Regions from separate parts of the Homo sapiens genome. Here region 1 is linked to region 2. Evidence: fine-mapped expression QTL. A gene starts in region 2. The other region holds a variant in brackets. All regions are shown on one strand. Distances are from middle to middle.

Region 1 (8,329 bases), 200 kb after region 2:
AGAAGAAAACCACAGAACTGTGAAGACAGGGAGGGACCTTAATTGCATATTGCAAAGTGAAAGAAGCCAGTCTGAAAAGGCTGTGGTCAGTATTTCTGTAAATCTAAAACTGTTCTAAAAAAAATGTGTATTCATTTTGTAAGAAGTTTTAAAAAAAGGGGAAAAAACCCAGAAACTTTATGAGGAAGTTATAGACTTTCCGAAACAGCATTAGATTGTCCCAGGGCTTGGAACTGGAGTTTGAGTCAGTCTTGCTCAACTCCCAGGTGGCTTCTAATTCACACCACAACCTTCTGAGACTAAGCGTTGGCTTTAATGCCCAGTTGTAAATAAAAGTCTGGAAGTCTGGTTACTGCACGCCTTTTCACCCAAGAAGTCCTCCAGACGACTTCCTTCCAGCTTTCTCAAATTCAGGGCTAAGTTGTAATTGTCAATAGATTTTACAAGTCCATACCTAGTTCTGCCTTGACCATACACTCACAAGCTCATCACTAGTGGTGCAGACTGCACAGTGCTTCCTAAGGCCATTCTCCACCTGCCCATTCCGTTCCCAGCATGCATTGTGCCTGTACCACTTCCTGAAAGTCTCAGTCTCCTTGCTCTTTCACCAAAAGTTCATTTATCTGTTTTTTTTTTGTCAACCTGAAATACTTTAAAGTGTAACATACAAACTGTAAAATACAGAATTTTTTTCAATGTTTATAGACATATAGGCATAATTTATATTATTCTTTGTGAGAAAGAGTCTTGCTCTGTTGCCCAGGGTGGAGCACAGTGGTGCAATCAAGGCTCACTGCAGCCTCAACCTCCTGTGCTCAAGGGATTCTCCCATCTCAGCCTCTTGAGTAGCTGGGATTACAGGCATGCACCACCATGCCCAGTAAATTTTTTTTTATTTTTTATTTTTTGCAGAGACAGGGCTTTGCTATGTTGCCCAGGCTATTCTTGAACTCCTGAGCTCAAGTCATCCTCAAGCCTCAACCTCTCAAAGTGCTGGGATTACAGGCACGAGCCACAGTGCCTGGACAATTTATATTCTTTATATGTAATCTTAAATGCATTCATTCATCTCAATGAATTTTTACAAATGAATAAACTCCTGTAACTATCACCAAACTCAAGATACAGCACGACCAGCATTCTGGTTTTTTTTTTTTTTTTAACTTGCCAGATGGAGATAGAATGTATCTTTCTCATCTCTGTTGTTTTAAGTTTTATGCACATTTCCAATGCAGTCCCAGCATTTTCAGCGCTCCATGTCTTGACTCACTGGCGTCCATTTTAAATGTTTCCTGCTTGCTGCCTGCATTGATTCAATGTTGCTTTTTACCAAAACAGAGGAACTATAGTAAACTTCTTCAACTTAGAGCCTTCTACTAAGGGGGCTGAATTTATTAGATTGGTGCAAAAGTAATCGCAGTTTTTGCACCAACCTAAGAATTTTATGATCATGATTGCCACATGGTTTAACTTCAAAGCAATTCTGTGCTTTTTGCAGAGGGGAGCTGAGGCTTCGTGGAGTTGAAGGTGAATTTCCCAGGCAGGCGGGAGAGACTGTACTGAGAGGGCTCCCAGGGAACCCAGCTGCATTCAGCCCAGCACTGTCAGCAGTGGAAGGACTTACCTGACCACCCACAGGGGCTTGCCTTCCACAGGCATGTTCTCACACTCCAGCCCGCGTCAGACTCACCTACAAGGCTCTTCATAGCACAGGCTTCTGGGCCCTATCCCCAGGGTTTCTGATGCAGTAGGTCGTAGGGTCTCAGATTTTGCATAGTTAACAGGTCCCCGGGTGACGCTGGTACTGCCTTTGGGGGACCCCACTCTGAGAACCGCTGTGTTGCAGCAAGCTGGGTCCCAGCAGCGATGTAGGGAGGGGCAGGCTGTGCTAAGCCTCAGCTAACAGAGCGGCCGTCCACGGCTCCTTCTGTCTGAGGTCCCTACTGAGGAGGGAAGGAATTCTTCCCAGAACTCAGCAACCCAGGAGCTTTCCAGGGCTCTGGGTACCTCTTCCTGATCCGTGGTTCTGGAAGACTTGGGGTAAGAAAAGTGCCTAGGCCGCGAGGTCCTAAGGCGTCTTTATGGAGACATTGCCTGGGATCATGGCCAAGGCTCAGGCTTCAGGGGCAGGAGCTCCAGGCTGGCCATGCACTAGTTATTGACCGGGCAGGGGCAGGAGCAGTGCTAGCATGGTGCCTGGCACAGAGCAGCTGTCATACTTTGCACACGTTTTGGCAGATTTTTCTTAGATGGTGGTATGGGGGTCGTTGAAGGAGCCCTCTTGTGTGCTAAACTGGGCTTGGACCACCTCAGCTCTCCTGAAAAATGGGCAGGGACTGGGAGCCTCATGGGTGTCATACTAAGTCTGACCCAATGACTGAGACAGAGTAAACAAGGGGTGGTCTCTCTGCCCCCTGAGTTCACCCTGTTACTAAGACCCTCGTCATATTGAATTTCAACGGCCTGGTCACCCATGAAGTTCTTCAGCTGGACCGGGGTTTCTCAATCTCGACACTGTTGACACTTGGGCCTGTATAATCCTTTGCTCTGGGGGCAGGGCTGTCCTGTGCATTATAGCGTGTTTAGCGGTATCCCTGGTCTCTACCTACTAGATGCCAGCAGCAGCTCCCTGACATCAAATCACAACAGCCAGAAATGTCTCTAGACGATATCCAGTGTCTCCTAGGGGCAGAACAGCTCCAACTGGTAACTGCTGAGTTACACTGGGAGCTCCCAGGAGGGAGGAACCACACCTTCCATCCCTGCACCTCCAGGACTAGCACACAGTAGGGGCTCACTAAGGGGACATCGAATGTATCCAACCTGCCTGGTCAGATATTCAGCATTTCATGCTCATTATGACATTTGAGTCTCAAAACCACCCGTGAGGAAGACTCATGTGAGAGATGAGGAAACCGAGGCACTGCAGGTGGGACCACTTGCTCAAGATTTCCTGGCTAATTAGCAACGGAGGCAGGACTTGAACTCCATGCTCTGTGCCTGACTGATTGGCCCTAAGACCAGGGTGACACCCTCTGTCCTACTGGCTTGCTTCCTCAGCACAACACCCTCTGTCCCACTGGCTTCCACAGCACAGGAAAGGAGCTCATGCCTGTGTCTGGACTCATGGCCTCAGGCAGGTCCCAATTTCTTTGTCCTTCCCCGCAGTCTCTCCACGGGGCACTTTGAATTCTGCCAGGCACAGCCTCCCAAGTTCACGTTGCTTTTTGAGGAATGACTTCAGCACTAAAACA[T/C]GTTTCACATTTAAGGTTAGGCAGGCCCTGCTTACAGCGGGAGCTTACAAGATCTCCAGCCCTTCTGGGGAAGGATATAAAAGGCTGACTTGAATGTTATGAAAGCTTAGGAAAAAAGGAATGCTAATGATCATACAAAAATAGAATGCCAAAGGAAGCTATTGCCAAACTGAAACAGGACTCAGATTCTGGGATAATGGACACATGAATCACAGCAAAGGGAAAAAAAAGTGAACTGGCGTTTCCCCTTTCATCGAAGTACTGATGATCATAAGATAAATCATGTTTGGAGAAGAATCAGAATGATTGGATTAAGTTTTACTGCAGTGTTTCTGACTAATCTTGGACCCAGGCAACCTAATTGAAAACTTACATCTGCACGGAGCTGGAGAGTTTGAACTCTCCAGCTTTAGTAACTCACCGCTGCAAGGCAGGCCCAGGCCCGGGAGTGCCTTCCTCCACATAACTGCATCGTTCTGAAGACACAGATCCAAAAACTCGATTTTCCCACTATGATTTTACCCAGAAACTTCTCTGAATTCGTAGATTACAATCAGATAATGGTCCATGACGTGAGCATCCCTTTGCCTGGCAGGCTGAAAGTCAAGATAGCCCTAGCTCCAAGCAAGCATTCCTTTTTTTTTTTAATGAGAGAAAAGAGGCAACAATTTTTAAGTGACCTTGCTGTTTGCTTTTGTGAAGTGAAGTGATCTCCCCACTGCTGCGATTTTAATAAGCCCGCAAGTTCTCCTAGGTGCCCTCCAGGGAGGAATTTCATTGTTCATCTGCACTCAATGTTCCAGAAATACCCTGCACCCATGAGCAAATCCTAACATGACTTCCAACTTGGGAGTGGAATTTGCCAAATAAATGAGCTGTTCTAACTGAATGTCCCGGGCCAAGGCTGGCTCCTGTGACGATGCTCTCTGCTGGGTCTACAGGCGGACCCTGTGGTTGACAGGCTCCCAGATGTGCACCCCTGGGCTGAGCTCTGCAGCCCAATGCCCCTCCCATCCACTGAACAGACCTGGACCATTCCAGAGGGGCCAGCTTCCCTCTGTGACCCCCAGCCTCATGCTTCCAAAGGAGGGCAGGAGATGACAGCGTGTGGGGGCACAAGGGTAGAGAGCAGACAAAACAAGAGCTCACTGAGAAATGAGGCAGAGGTGTTGTGCAGGTGCCAAGGGCCTGGGTTTTTGACTCCTACAGAGCTGGGTAGGAACCCTGGTTCTTGTCTTTCCCAGCTGTGACACCCTCAGCAAGTTACGAAAACCATGCAACCTCCAGATATCTCATCCATAAACCGGGTGTTGTCATGAGAATGGAATAACACGATGTGCTTAGTAAAATGGAATGTCAATTACATCCACATCCCTGAACAAATGAGTCCACGAAAAGCATGGTGCAAGTGGAATCTATAGTCACGTGTAAGTCTTGTTATATGCAAAAGCATTACTCCTTGCTGGGAGTCTCTCTCCACAGGACTCGATGTGCCACACAGACAGAAACAGTCCCCGTTGCCTTGTCCTTTGCACCTAATGTCACACCGACACGGAGGAGATACTCGGTAAACATTTGTTAAGGAAAGAAGAGCTTGGCACGGGTTCCCTTTTTCTTCCACCTCAACCCCAGTGCTATCCTCAGGGACCCCTCATTCCCACCTTGCTCTGCACACATCTCACCTGGCCCTGGCCCTGTGCCCTCCTGACACCTATTTGGAACATTTCCCCAACAAACTTGGTATTCCAGACTCAGAAACCGGCTGTCGGCATTGGTCCTGCCACTGTCTGCCTGCCTGCTTCCGGGCATATTGCTTCACTGCTCAGAGCCTCAGTGTCCTCGTTTGCTCTTCCATGAGACAGTCATAGTGCGGGTTTGCAGCAGACCTATGGCTCTTGAACTGTACTCCACAAAATCCCACGTGTTTCTCCCGCCAGAACCTCTGGAGGCCTCATCTCTGGGACCCCACCCTTCACATTAGCCAAGGCACCCTACTTTTTCAGTGAGCAGCTGCTGAGAAAGATATTGCTTCATTTCTAGGTGAAGTTTCGTCCCTCTGGACTGAGAGGTTCCTCCTCAATTCTATCTGTGCTGCACAGGGCCCAATTTGGGACCATGAGGGATATGAGATGTCCCAGAACGAGACCATTACTTCTTTCAGGACAAGAGGTTAATTCAGCAATGGGGAACCCTGCTCTCTGTGAAAGGCTTCCCCACATCCAGAAGCCGGCCAGGCTCATGTTTCCTTGGGTAGCGAGACCTCCAGAGAGTTTGGGTCTTTCCTACAGGACACAGGCACATGCAGAGATGCTGGTCTGTTCTAAACTACCCATTCTAGGCCAGGCATAGTGGCTCATGCCTGTAATCCTAGCACTTTGGGAGGCTGAGGCGGGAGGATCACTTGAGGCCAGGAATTTGAGACCAGCCTGTGCAATGTAGTGAGACTCCCATCTCTACAAAAAAAGAAAAGAAAAGAAAAAAGTAGCCAGAAGTGCTGGTGTGCACCAGTAGTTCCAGCTACTCAGAAGGCTGAGGCAGGAGGATGGCTTGAGCCCAGGAGTTTCAGGTTACAATGAGCTATGATGGTGCCACTGCTCTCCAGCATGGGTTGCAAAGTGAGATCCACTCTCAAAAAAAGCAAATAAATAATTTGAAAACATATTAAACTTTCCTTTCAAAACATTCACCATCTCCTGAACTTTGTCTTCACCACTGCCCTAGAACACCTTGCCTACTTCTCAGACAGAATGAGCACCGTCTTGCCCACCCTCTTGCCCACACTTCCTGTCAAGCCTTACACTATCCCCAGCAGCACCACTGACTTCATCACAAAATTGAGTGGCCACACGCCTTAGACCATGCAGGCTACCATAATAAAATACCACAGACTGAATATTTATAAACAACAAAAATTGATTTCTCACAGTTCTGGGGGCTGGGAAGTCCAAAGTCAAGATGGATTTGGTGTCTAGTGAGGGCCCACTTTCTGGCTCACAGATAGCACCATCTTGCTGTGTCCTTACTGGGTGGGTGGGACCAGCTAGCTCTCTGGGGTCTGTTTTATAAGGGCACTAATGCCACTCATGAGGGTTCTACCTTCCTGAGGCAATCACCTCCCAAGGCTGCTCTTTCTAATACCATCGCATTGGATATTAGGCTGCAACATGAAACCTACATTCAGACCACATAGATCTGGTCAATATGGAGATGGTTTTAGACTGTTTATCACTTACACTAACGGCATAAGCAACATCATCATAATGTCAGCTTTCCACATCCCTAGGATGACACCAAATTGGAGAAGCCAGATGACAGACATGAGGAGTGGGTTGCTCCATTGGGATATCTCACTCTAAAATACAACCAAGCACCTTTATAGCTGGAGCTATGCCCTAAGGGGGGCATGTGGAAAGTTTTACTTCTCACTGGAACCAGGGAAGTGGATAAGACAGTGTCTTGTGGCAGCCCCTCACAAGACAGGGAGCCTCCTATAGGACAGGGAAGTGGATGGAAAATGACCTACAGATGACCCTTACGAGACTGCCCTGCTTGCTGAATCCCAGGAAGGATCACAGAGTGTTCTGCCAAGACATGGGTCCGACTGAGGCTGAGACTCACCTACGCAGAGACGCCCAAGAGCTCCATGGGGGAGCCTTTCCCTACTCTGTCCTCCTACCTTCCTTCTCATTGAGGACAAGGTGTCTGTCCTCTTGTCTAAGGAGAAACTCACCCTTAGAACCTTGGATTTACTAAAACTCTCATTGAAAACCTATTTAATCAATGATCATCCTCTCTTCTGAATCTCCTTCCTACCCAGCCCCTTAGCCACACCTACCTTAAAAAGCACATAATCCACCAAAACATATACCTCTAAGTCTCCCCTGGCTCCTGATCCTCTCTGGTCCTTTCTGAGTGAACTCTCTGACCATCCCCTGAGTGAATCCATTCACACCGCAGGCTCCAGCTGCCCTCTTTTTGCTGGAAATGCCTAACCTGACTCCCGCCCCGTCCTCCTCCAAGCTGCTGCCATGGAACTCTTGCTGATGGAGTTTATCCACCTGAATGCCAGAAAGGCATCTCAGATCCCATGAGTCTGTGCAACAGCCGCGTCTCTGTCCCTTGAGCCTGCTGCTCTTCCTGCCTACACCTCCAAGAGCACGCTTACAGAAGCCAGAAATTCGGCAGGCAGCCTAGACATTCTTCTCTTGTAGCCCTGACATCCAGTATTTATTTAGGGCTACGCTTTGTTAATTCTTAAACATATCTCTTTTTCCCCCTGTACTTCCCTTTAGTATCACCATAGTTTTTGCATCAAGATATATAACCTCATTAACAGGTTTCTTTTGAAAGCTTAGTACTAAATATGTTTTAGTACTAATATGTACTATATACTAAAGTATTTTATTAGATAATTATTATTAGAAATAAAATGTCTGAATAGTCCTATATCTCTTTGAACGGTTTGAACTCATAACTAAGGACTTTCCCTCTAAGAAAACAGCAGCCTTAATCGTTTCACTAGAAACATATCAAATATTCAAGGAGCAAATACCACCACCCTTACACAAATTATTTCAGAACACAGAAAAACAGGAACACTTTCCAACTCATTTTATGAGGTCAATATTATCCTGCAACAACAACAAAAAACAGACATGACAAGAAAAGTACAGAACAACTTCCTTCATTAACATGAATGCAAAGATCCTTAACAAAATAAGGGTGAAAAAATTAATGAGATTTTTAAAATGACAAATATAAGATCATTTTCGCAGATAGTCCACTGATGCTTTAAGTAAGGGGCATTCTATCTTTGAAACACGTTTCAAGCTACCAATCTGAGAAGGAGTCTAAGAAAGAGAAAAAAAAGCCTCTGACATTGGCAGCAGGCTGGACACTCACAGCTCAGTCCTGGTGTTCCTTGTTGAACATAAGCAATCTTAAAGAACACAACATCAGAATGATATGGTTTGGCTGTGTTGCCACCCAAATCTCATCTTTAATTGTAGCTCCATAATTCCCACATGTTGTGGGAGGGACCTGGTGGGAGATAATTGAATCATGGGGATGGTTTC
Region 2 (8,329 bases):
AAAAATGAAGGCAGGGAGCTTTGGTTTTGTTTTTTATTCATTCTTACAACTCCCAAGAATGGGCAGTGGGAGGAACTGGGCCTGTGGGGTCAGCAGGACCATGTGACGAAAAGAATGTGCAACTTTTTCCAACGTGATTCGCCTTGTCTTATTTTTTTTTAAATCTGTGAATTGTTGGGTCAATTCCAACATGATAAAGAGCCACATTTGTTAATCTTGGCATCAAAACGATGTGTTTTCAAAATCCGAACAAAACTAAAGAAGTAACAAGTTTTAAAGAAGCAAGACTAAGAAGTAAAGAAGTCACATCCTGTGTGGAAAGTCTGTTTCCAAAGAAAAAAACACAGATGAGAAAAAACACTCTGCTGTGTGCTGAATAAAGACCTACCCCACCCTTGTGGGAAGCTTGAGCACTCTGCTCTGATGTGAGGGTGTGGGGATCCGGGTTCTAGACCAGCACCTCCTCCAGGGCTTCCGCACGCTGCTCATTGGGCGCACCTTGTTTAGGGTTCTGTTGAGGGCATTGTGGTGGCAATGGCACCCACGGAACAAGAAGGGCATGGGCACAGGTCTCAAGGGCCTTATCTCCGGCGTGTCCATCAGAAATGAGCGCCCTCACACCTGCCAGTCCAGCCACGCTGACGTGCAGAATGTAGGCCAGGACTCTCCAGCTTGAGGAGCGGGGGCTGGGCTCGGCTTCCAGTACCTTTCTGGAACTTCTCATCTCTGGACATTGAAAACCTGGAGCACCCACATAGCCCCCCGGCATGACAGCTAACACCTGGGTGGTCCTTTCTGCTCGTTTATCAGCCCATTACTTTCCCCAATGGCCCTGCTGGTTCTGTTTGGTTTCTACAGTCGCTTCCTTACAGATGGGGACGTGGAGGAAAACTCGGGCTATTTGCTGTTGTTTCTGTTGTTGTTTTTTTGTGCTGTGTTTTGTCAAATCAGAAAACTCTTCATTTGCTCTATTTCCAGCAGTGAGAATGGGCTGTGCAGAGGCCGCCCACACCTGGCAGGGGTCAAGGTGAGCCCTCGGTCGCCACGTTCCCTGGGACTCCCAGGATGGCAAGCCTGGCAGCAGTTCCTGTTTTCTTTGGTGTCATTGGAAATGCTACTGTTTGGATGTAGTTTGTTGGGATGCCAATATATCAAGAAAGGCTTCCTTGTTCTCCCTCCTGAAATTCTGCACACACGACTGTTTTTAGCAACAGTGATGTGATCTCTATTTTTGGTGGCAGTTTTGAGCACCCTGTCCGTTGGAACTTTTTGTGTTGTAAACAGACAGGAGATCCAGCCCAAATGGAGGTAAGTAATAAGGACCATGCACTCACCTCGGTGGAGAGGCCACGGGTTCGGAGACCTTCAGGAGAAGTTTGATCCAGCCGCTCAGTGATGCAGCAGGGACCGAGAGCCCTTGGGTGCCCTGCTCCCTCCACATTCCCAGGGGCTCCTCATGCTGCCCTGGCAGCTCTGCAGAAGGCCTCCCTGAAGAAAGGCAGCTGGTCCCAGCTAGAGTCCCAGGGTTCATGCTGGCTGAGCCCCCTTCTTGTTTCTTCCCCAACCCAGAGCTATTCTCACCTCCCCTGAAGGCCTTCCCAGGTGATGGGGGCCATGGAGACTGCATTGGACAGCTCTGTGCACTGTCCATGAAGCACTTGCTGCAGGACTCCCTTAGAAACGTGAGGCTTTAAACACCTTGGGACCCCAGGAGGAGGCATGTGTCCAGCTAGCGGTGCCCCTCTGTGGTGTGGAGAACGTTCTACTCAGACGTTCCTGAGTGGGAACTTGGCAGCACAACTGGGAAACCTGTTGCTTCCAGCCCCGCGGGCCTGTAGACCCCCCACCAGAGATGGGCCCTCCTGCCAGGCTTCCTACCTTGTGCAACTTAGCCTCCTGCTGCACCCCATCCACCAGCTCTGCCAGCACGAGAGGTCATCCCACACGCTCCTGCTTCCAGGCCACCAGCTGTCCCCCATGGCCCCCATCTCCCCTGTACCCTCTGGACTTTGCAGAGACCCCTCTGCTCTCCTTGGGGTTACAGAGCTCTGCATCTGTCTCCTCCCCTCCCCTGCAGCTGCTCCCAATCCTGCACCCCACACAGAGCCTGGGGCTCCACACTCCTTCACCACTGACCACACCTGCCAGGTGCTGCCTGCATCTCAACTCAGGCCACCTGCTCCCGCCCTCCATGTTGGGTTCATGCAGCGATTCTCCCAGGCCACTCTGTGTCTCCCTCTGCTCCAGCATCCTGCTGCCTAGGCGGCCGTGCCACTGCAGCCCTTGCTCCAGAGTACCTGCCTGGAAACCTTGCCCCGGCTCCCCAAATGCACCTCCCTTCCCACAGGACATCCATTCAAGGCCACATCCAAACCTCCAAATGCCTCCTGAACACTTCACCTAGAGGCCTCACCTGCCTGGTGGCTCACGGAGGCTGGCGCCATCGCCTCCCCCCGCCACAGCCAGACTGGTCTGCTCCCCCTCCTCTTCACGTCCCCTCTTGGTGATCACCTGCTCCCCCATTTCCCACCTCAAGCAGTCTCACCCTCCTCTGTGCCCCGCCCCTGGCTCCTACCTACGCAAGGTGGCAGCCTCTGGCCACCCTGCACGCCCAGCCATGCAGAGCCTGGGAAACGACAGGACATGTGGCTGTCCTTTCACGGCCCCTGTCACCTCCCCCAAATCCAGCCAGGGCTGAGACGCCCCACACTGTGGCCCCCGGCATAAGGCCTTGATCCTTCCTGAGGGCAGGATGGGGGCAGTTTTGTTCTGTGAAGTTCCTTGGCCTTGAGCTTAGCTGGACCCCGCTCCCGGAAAGCCCGAGAAACAGACGTTCCTCTGTGAAAGCCCCTTCTGAGCACCTGCAAGGAGCACTCTGCCATCCCACTCCTGGTTCAGGCTTTCATCCGCGTGGAGGGCCTTGTCTTCTGTGAGTCCCCGCCTCAGCCTCACCTGGCTCCTAGGAGGCTCTGGGAAGGTTAGCTGGGCTGTTCCCCAAACAAGGGGCCACAGGAAGGTGGGGGCTCCTGAGGGTCTGGGAGGCAGGGGAGACTATGTGTGCCCTTTCTCTTCCGCACCTGAAACCTGACTTTCCCTCACTGGAGACCTGAGGATGGAGTGCAGTGGCTTAGCTAAGCTTCTGTTAACAGCATGCTCACTGTTTTGAAACAGAAATGAAAGAACATTTGGGAGTTGGGGTATGTGCAGAGAAAACATTTTCCTTGAATGTCTTTACTGAATGGGTGGGAATAGGTATGTGTGAAGGGGAAAAGTTCAGGGTACAGTGGTCAGGTCCTTGGGAGATGTCGGGGAGGGCCGTCTGGCCCAGCTCCTGAGGAGGGTGGGCCCAGGCTCATCCTATACGCACTAGTCCTGACGCCTCACAATTAATCAAATGGCTAAAAACAAACACAAAAGAAGCCCTCAGCATTGTGTTACCAGGGCAGCGGTGTGATGTCATCTGTTCATTCCAAGCTGTCACCCCGAAGCTGAGTGAAGTACGTGGTGAGGACAGGCAGATTGTGCCTTACGTGCATAGTGCAAATAAGGTTTGTGTAGAGTATTTTGCTCATTGACTGTGGAATTCATTGATTATGTTATTCACTGCACGTTCAGCTCCGCAAAGCGTCTTCTGTGTACCTGGGAGGAGCATGGTGCCATTTCCCTTCCTCCTTCAGACTTTCTTCTACATGGAAGGCCCCGTCCTCCACAGGTCCCAGCCTCAGCTGACACTCGGGTCCCAGGAGGCTCTGCGAAGGTTTGCTGGGCGGTTCCCCCGCACGCCGGGCTACAACAAAGGTGGGCGCCACTGAGGGGCCTGGGAAGTAGAGGCGCAAGAACCTGTGTCAAAGCATGTTGCACATTATCTGATTATTTTATTCAAAATCAATCATCAGATCCCATACAAAATGTTTTCATGTAGATTATCTTACTCGTTGTCACAAAGACCCACAAGAAAGGTAGAATTGAGGTTTCTAATCCCTATTTTATAGCTGAGGAAACTGAGACCCAAATTACGTTTCCAACAGTGGCTTTCTGCTTCTTCCAGGAACACAGCATGACACGTGCTGTGAACCTCAGCTGTGAGACAACCGAAGGAGAGACAACATTCAGCAAAAACAGAGCCCAAACTGTCCCCGTTTCTCTCAGCCCCAACTGCTCCATGGCTTGGAGTGCAGCAAATGTTTCAGCCGCGCTCAAAGGGAAGGCTTTGCTCTGGAGTCAGCATGCAGAGCTCGCCTCGACTCCCCTCCATGCCGCTCCTCACCAGCACTGGCTGGGTTTGAATCTCAGCTCCCTGGCTCCTCGCTGTAAGCCCTGGAATGCAAACCCCAAGGGCCAAACACCCCGAGGCTCTCAGGTCCCAGGCGCGGACACCTTCCTGGCCTTGGCTGTCATGGCCCAGATGGAAGCAAAGACAACTCCCCTCTCCACAGGTCGGCTGGTCCTCCTGCCCCGAGAGCAGGAGCCCAGGCACAGGCTCTGTACAGAGTTCTCCATCTACTTCTCCCAGGGTGGCTATGCAAAGGCCGTCTGCCTCTCGCTCTCTGGGTCCCACCTGCAGCCTGTCCCAGTGGATTCTGTAGGCTCCACAGTGATGCTGGGAAAAGACCCAAACACCCGGACAAAGCACGTGGACAGCTGCCAATGCCAAAACGGCAGGAAGCAAGGGAAAGGCAGCTGGCTCCGACCCTTTGCCAACCGTGTGCAACGCTGCAGGCACCTAGAGCCAGCGAGGAGCTACCAAACTGGTTCCCATCTATGCTTGCAGCGGCTGCTGTCGCAGAGGCAGGACAGGGGTGCATGGCTATGCCAAGTATCCTTCTGGGATGAGCCGATTCTCTTGTCCCAGGTCGGGCATGATGGAGAGGCCAGAAGGTGTGTTTGAATAGCAGGCATTGGGGGTTTGCAAAGGGCTGTGATTTCCTGGGCCTCCCGTCTTAGGCAGGCTCTGGGTTCTCCTTGGTTCTTCCCTTGGAGCAGGGACCTGGCTTTGGATGACCATGGATCTTTCCTGGTTTCTGCTGTTATCTTGCTGTGTGACCGAGGTCAAGTCCACACTCCCTTCCCAAGCTTGTTTTCTCTGCAGTAAAACTGCCATTTGGAACTGAACCCTTCAAGGGGAGGCGGCTGAAACAGTGGGGGTGATGCTGGGTGCTAAGCCCTACCCCTTCTCCTAAATACCTACTTCTCTCCTTTTTTTTCCTTTTTTACCTATTAATGGGTTAGACAGCCAAAAACCCTCTCTGAAAGAGTGTCCTGGCCCAAGTCCGCCTGGGGCACTGTTGTGAGCCTCAATTTCTACGGATCTATGCCTGGAAAGCTTTTAGCATAAAACGTTTTAGGTAGAAGACCGGGATCACGGAACAGGATCAGGACCCCAGAACAGGACCGAGACCATGAAACAGGAAGCAAGCTACATCCAGCACCCAGTTCAGAGAGAGGGCTGGGGACGCCGACACTCCACCTCCTTCCCAGCAAACTCGGAAGGCTCCAGGGCATCCCTGGAGCTGCTCTGGCAGAGAAGAATCAGTGTCCACACGTGCAGCTCTCGCTCGAGGAAGGGCAGGGGCGACATCAGAGGCATGCTTTGCACAGCACACGCTTCTAGAATGGCTGGGATTTCAACCTTGAAAGTCTCAACTCCTTCTTCCTCCTCAGATCTTGGGATTTTGAAAGTGATTCCTAAATGCCTTTCGATCTCATTTTTGCCGAAGGAGATGGTCCTAATTTACTGCATTCCAATTGGAAACATTTTTGAGAGTAAAAATACCTGAAGACATGTTGGGCCTGGAGGTAGCAGACTCAAAATTAAAGCAGGGGCCCCTCTATCCACCGCCCCCCAGATTGCATTAAACACAGCATGTTGGGGATCAGTGAGTTGCCATGGCCCTGCAATCAGACATTTTGCCCTCTGAAATTTAGCCTTGATTTTGAAGCCCTGAGTTTAGTATATTTAGATGAGCTGACGGGCCCAGGGAGTCACTCAGAAAGGGTAGAGGTCCTTCAGAGCTGCGTTAAGATACAGTGGGAGGGGGTCAAATTGCTAATTTCATCTGCCACTGAAAACTCCCAAACAGCAGAGAACTTCCCAGAAGACTTGTGAAGTTGGGAGTCTGCAGGTGGCGGGGGTTGGGTGGGGAGGTGATGGCATTCTACCCCTAAGAGAGCATTTTGAAGTTGAAGCTCAACTTAAAATATTTGTGCCTATTTTTGAGACAGGGTCTTGCTCTGTCACCCAGGCTGGAGTGCAATGGCACCATCTCAGCTCACTGCAGCCTCGACCTCCCAGGCTTGAGCAATCCTCTCACCTCAGCCTCCTGAGTAGCTGGGACTACAGGCATGCACCACCACACTTGGCTAATGTGTGTATGTGTGTGTGTGTTTGTAGAAATGGGGTTTTGCCCTGTTGCCCAGGCTGGTCTCAAACTCCCGAACTCAAGCCACCTGCTCTCCTCGGCCTCCCAAAGTGTTGGGATTACAGATGTGCATCATCGTGCCCAGCCACATTATGCTTTTTAGAGGGACATCACCAATCAGACAGTGGCCTGGGCTGGACACAGCATCCCTGGAAGACGGCCCCTCTCTAAGGTGTCATCTGCCATTAGCCAAGGACCCTCTTGTCTCTCTAGCTCCAAGTCTCCACAGAGGATGTGCTCAAAAGTGAGTGTGTGTGGCCTTGCCCCCCACTTCTCCTGCCTGCAGGTGGGGAGGGAAGCAGGTGGCAGGAGGAGGTGGCTGTCTGGGGCTGCCCTCCTCTGTACCTGTGCGTGATTTTACTCTATGCTGAGTGCCAGCAGGGAGGATGGGAAACAACATTTCTGTCTGGTTATCAAATGATCGCCATCATTGGCCTCATGGCATCACCACTGTCTTCATTGCTGGCACCTTCCCGTCCTCCCTCCAGCCAGGGAAGTCTGACCCAGGCACAGGTGACAGGAAGTGTCACTCTGCCTTAGGGGTCTGCAATCTTGGGATGTCAAACAGGCCCCACGGTGCCTTGCACCCCTGGTCTCACACTCTGTATCATTTTCTGTACTGTTCATGTGGTTCTCAAAGCAGGCGTGGCCAGGGAGTGGGACAGCTTTGTGTCCGTGTCTTGGAGCTGCTGCAAAGAGGCCCCGAGGGCCGGGGGCTCAGGCCACAGAAACGGATCTTGTCCCGGCAGTGGGGGCTGAAGCCTGAGATCACAGTGTGGGCGGGGCTGGGTCCTTCTCAGGCTGTGTGGGGGGTTCTGTCCCAGGCCTCTCTCCTGGGAGTGCAGGCACTGGCTCCGCCCATGTCCTTCACCTCCCCTTCCCTCTAATTGTGTCTGCCTCTGTCACCACATCTCCTCTTTATGAGGACATTGGCCCTATTGGATCAGTGCCCTCTCTAATGACCTCAATTTAAATCAGTGACCTCTGTGGAGACCCTCTCTCCAGATAAAGCCTCCTTCAGATAAAGCCTCTTGCGGATAAAGCCTAAAGCACTGGTGGTCAGGACTTCAACGTGTGAATTCCAGGAGGACACACTTCAGCCCATTACAGACCTGATGGCTTCTGCCAGACACCCAGCCGATCCCCATGGCTTATGGAGGAAGAAGACAAGTGGAGACGGGGAGGTGGTCGGGCGACCCTTTCCACGGCCAGCAGCAACTGCACCCGTGTCTGGGCACCTCCTGAGTGCTGTAAGCCCCCATGCATCATCAAGACGGAGGCCCAGGCAAGGGCAGGTGGGAGCTGAAACCCGTCTCAGGAGGTGGATATTTTTATCATTGGGTGTTTGTATTTTTCTTATTATAAGAGCCTTCGTCTTTTTCTTCTTGCACGTCATTTATTGCTTGCTTTTATTCTTATCTGGTTGTTTTCTGTGTGGGTTACAGATCCCCAAGCCACCTTCCCTTGGTCCCAGCCCAGATTGTGGCTCCCCTGTGTGCCTCCCAGGCCCCAGGATAGACGTCAACCGTGTCCCCTTGTGGGTGCCTTGAGCTTAGCACCTGCCTGTCCCTTCCAGGGGCCCCTCTAATACAGGACTTACATCTTCATGAAGACACTAACTGTACTAGTGCGTGTTCTCCAGAGGAGCAGAGCCACTCAAGGTGTGCACATCAGAAGAGAGCTATTTTAAGGAACTGGCTGACGCTGGCAAGTTCAAACTCTGCAGGGTGGGCCGGCAGGCTGGAGACCTGGGAAGGAGCTCATGTCACAGTTCGAGGCCTAAGGCAGTCTGGGGGTGGAATTCCTTCTTGCTCAAGGCTGGTCAATCTCTTTGTTCTAGTCAGGCCTTCAACTGATTGGGTGAGGCCCACCCCTTTTGACGAGAGCCACCTGCTTTACTCGAAGGCTAA

Alleles and levels. Positions count from the first base shown, and alleles are read on the strand shown. Sizes are in standard deviations (SD) of each study's normalised expression.
As copies of C replace T in region 1, the expression in fibroblasts of the gene that starts at base 3,467 in region 2 goes down (small effect, 0.30 SD a copy in GTEx).

The links. PIP is the estimated chance that this variant, and not a neighbour inherited with it, causes the effect.
Region 1: its variant is fine-mapped to the expression of LINC01940 in fibroblasts (GTEx, PIP above 0.99).

What each region holds. Positions count from the first base shown.
Region 1 is chr2:238,723,975-238,732,303 of GRCh38, reverse strand. The region is part of intron 1 of LINC01937 (long intergenic non-protein coding RNA 1937); the gene reads right to left. Among named protein-coding and RNA genes, the nearest start is that of LINC01937, 8.2 kb to the right of the region's middle. RefSeq lists an enhancer at 1,341-1,840. The variant T/C (reference allele first, on the strand shown) is at 3,255.
Region 2 is chr2:238,921,407-238,929,735 of GRCh38, reverse strand. LINC01940 (long intergenic non-protein coding RNA 1940) reads left to right here and starts at 3,467. Exons shown (of 10, transcript NR_034162.2): 1 at 3,467-3,497; 2 at 3,616-3,798; 3 at 4,049-4,878; 4 at 5,346-6,663; 5 at 7,398-7,740; 6 at 7,865-8,126; 7 at 8,260-8,329. RefSeq lists an enhancer at 5,276-5,445.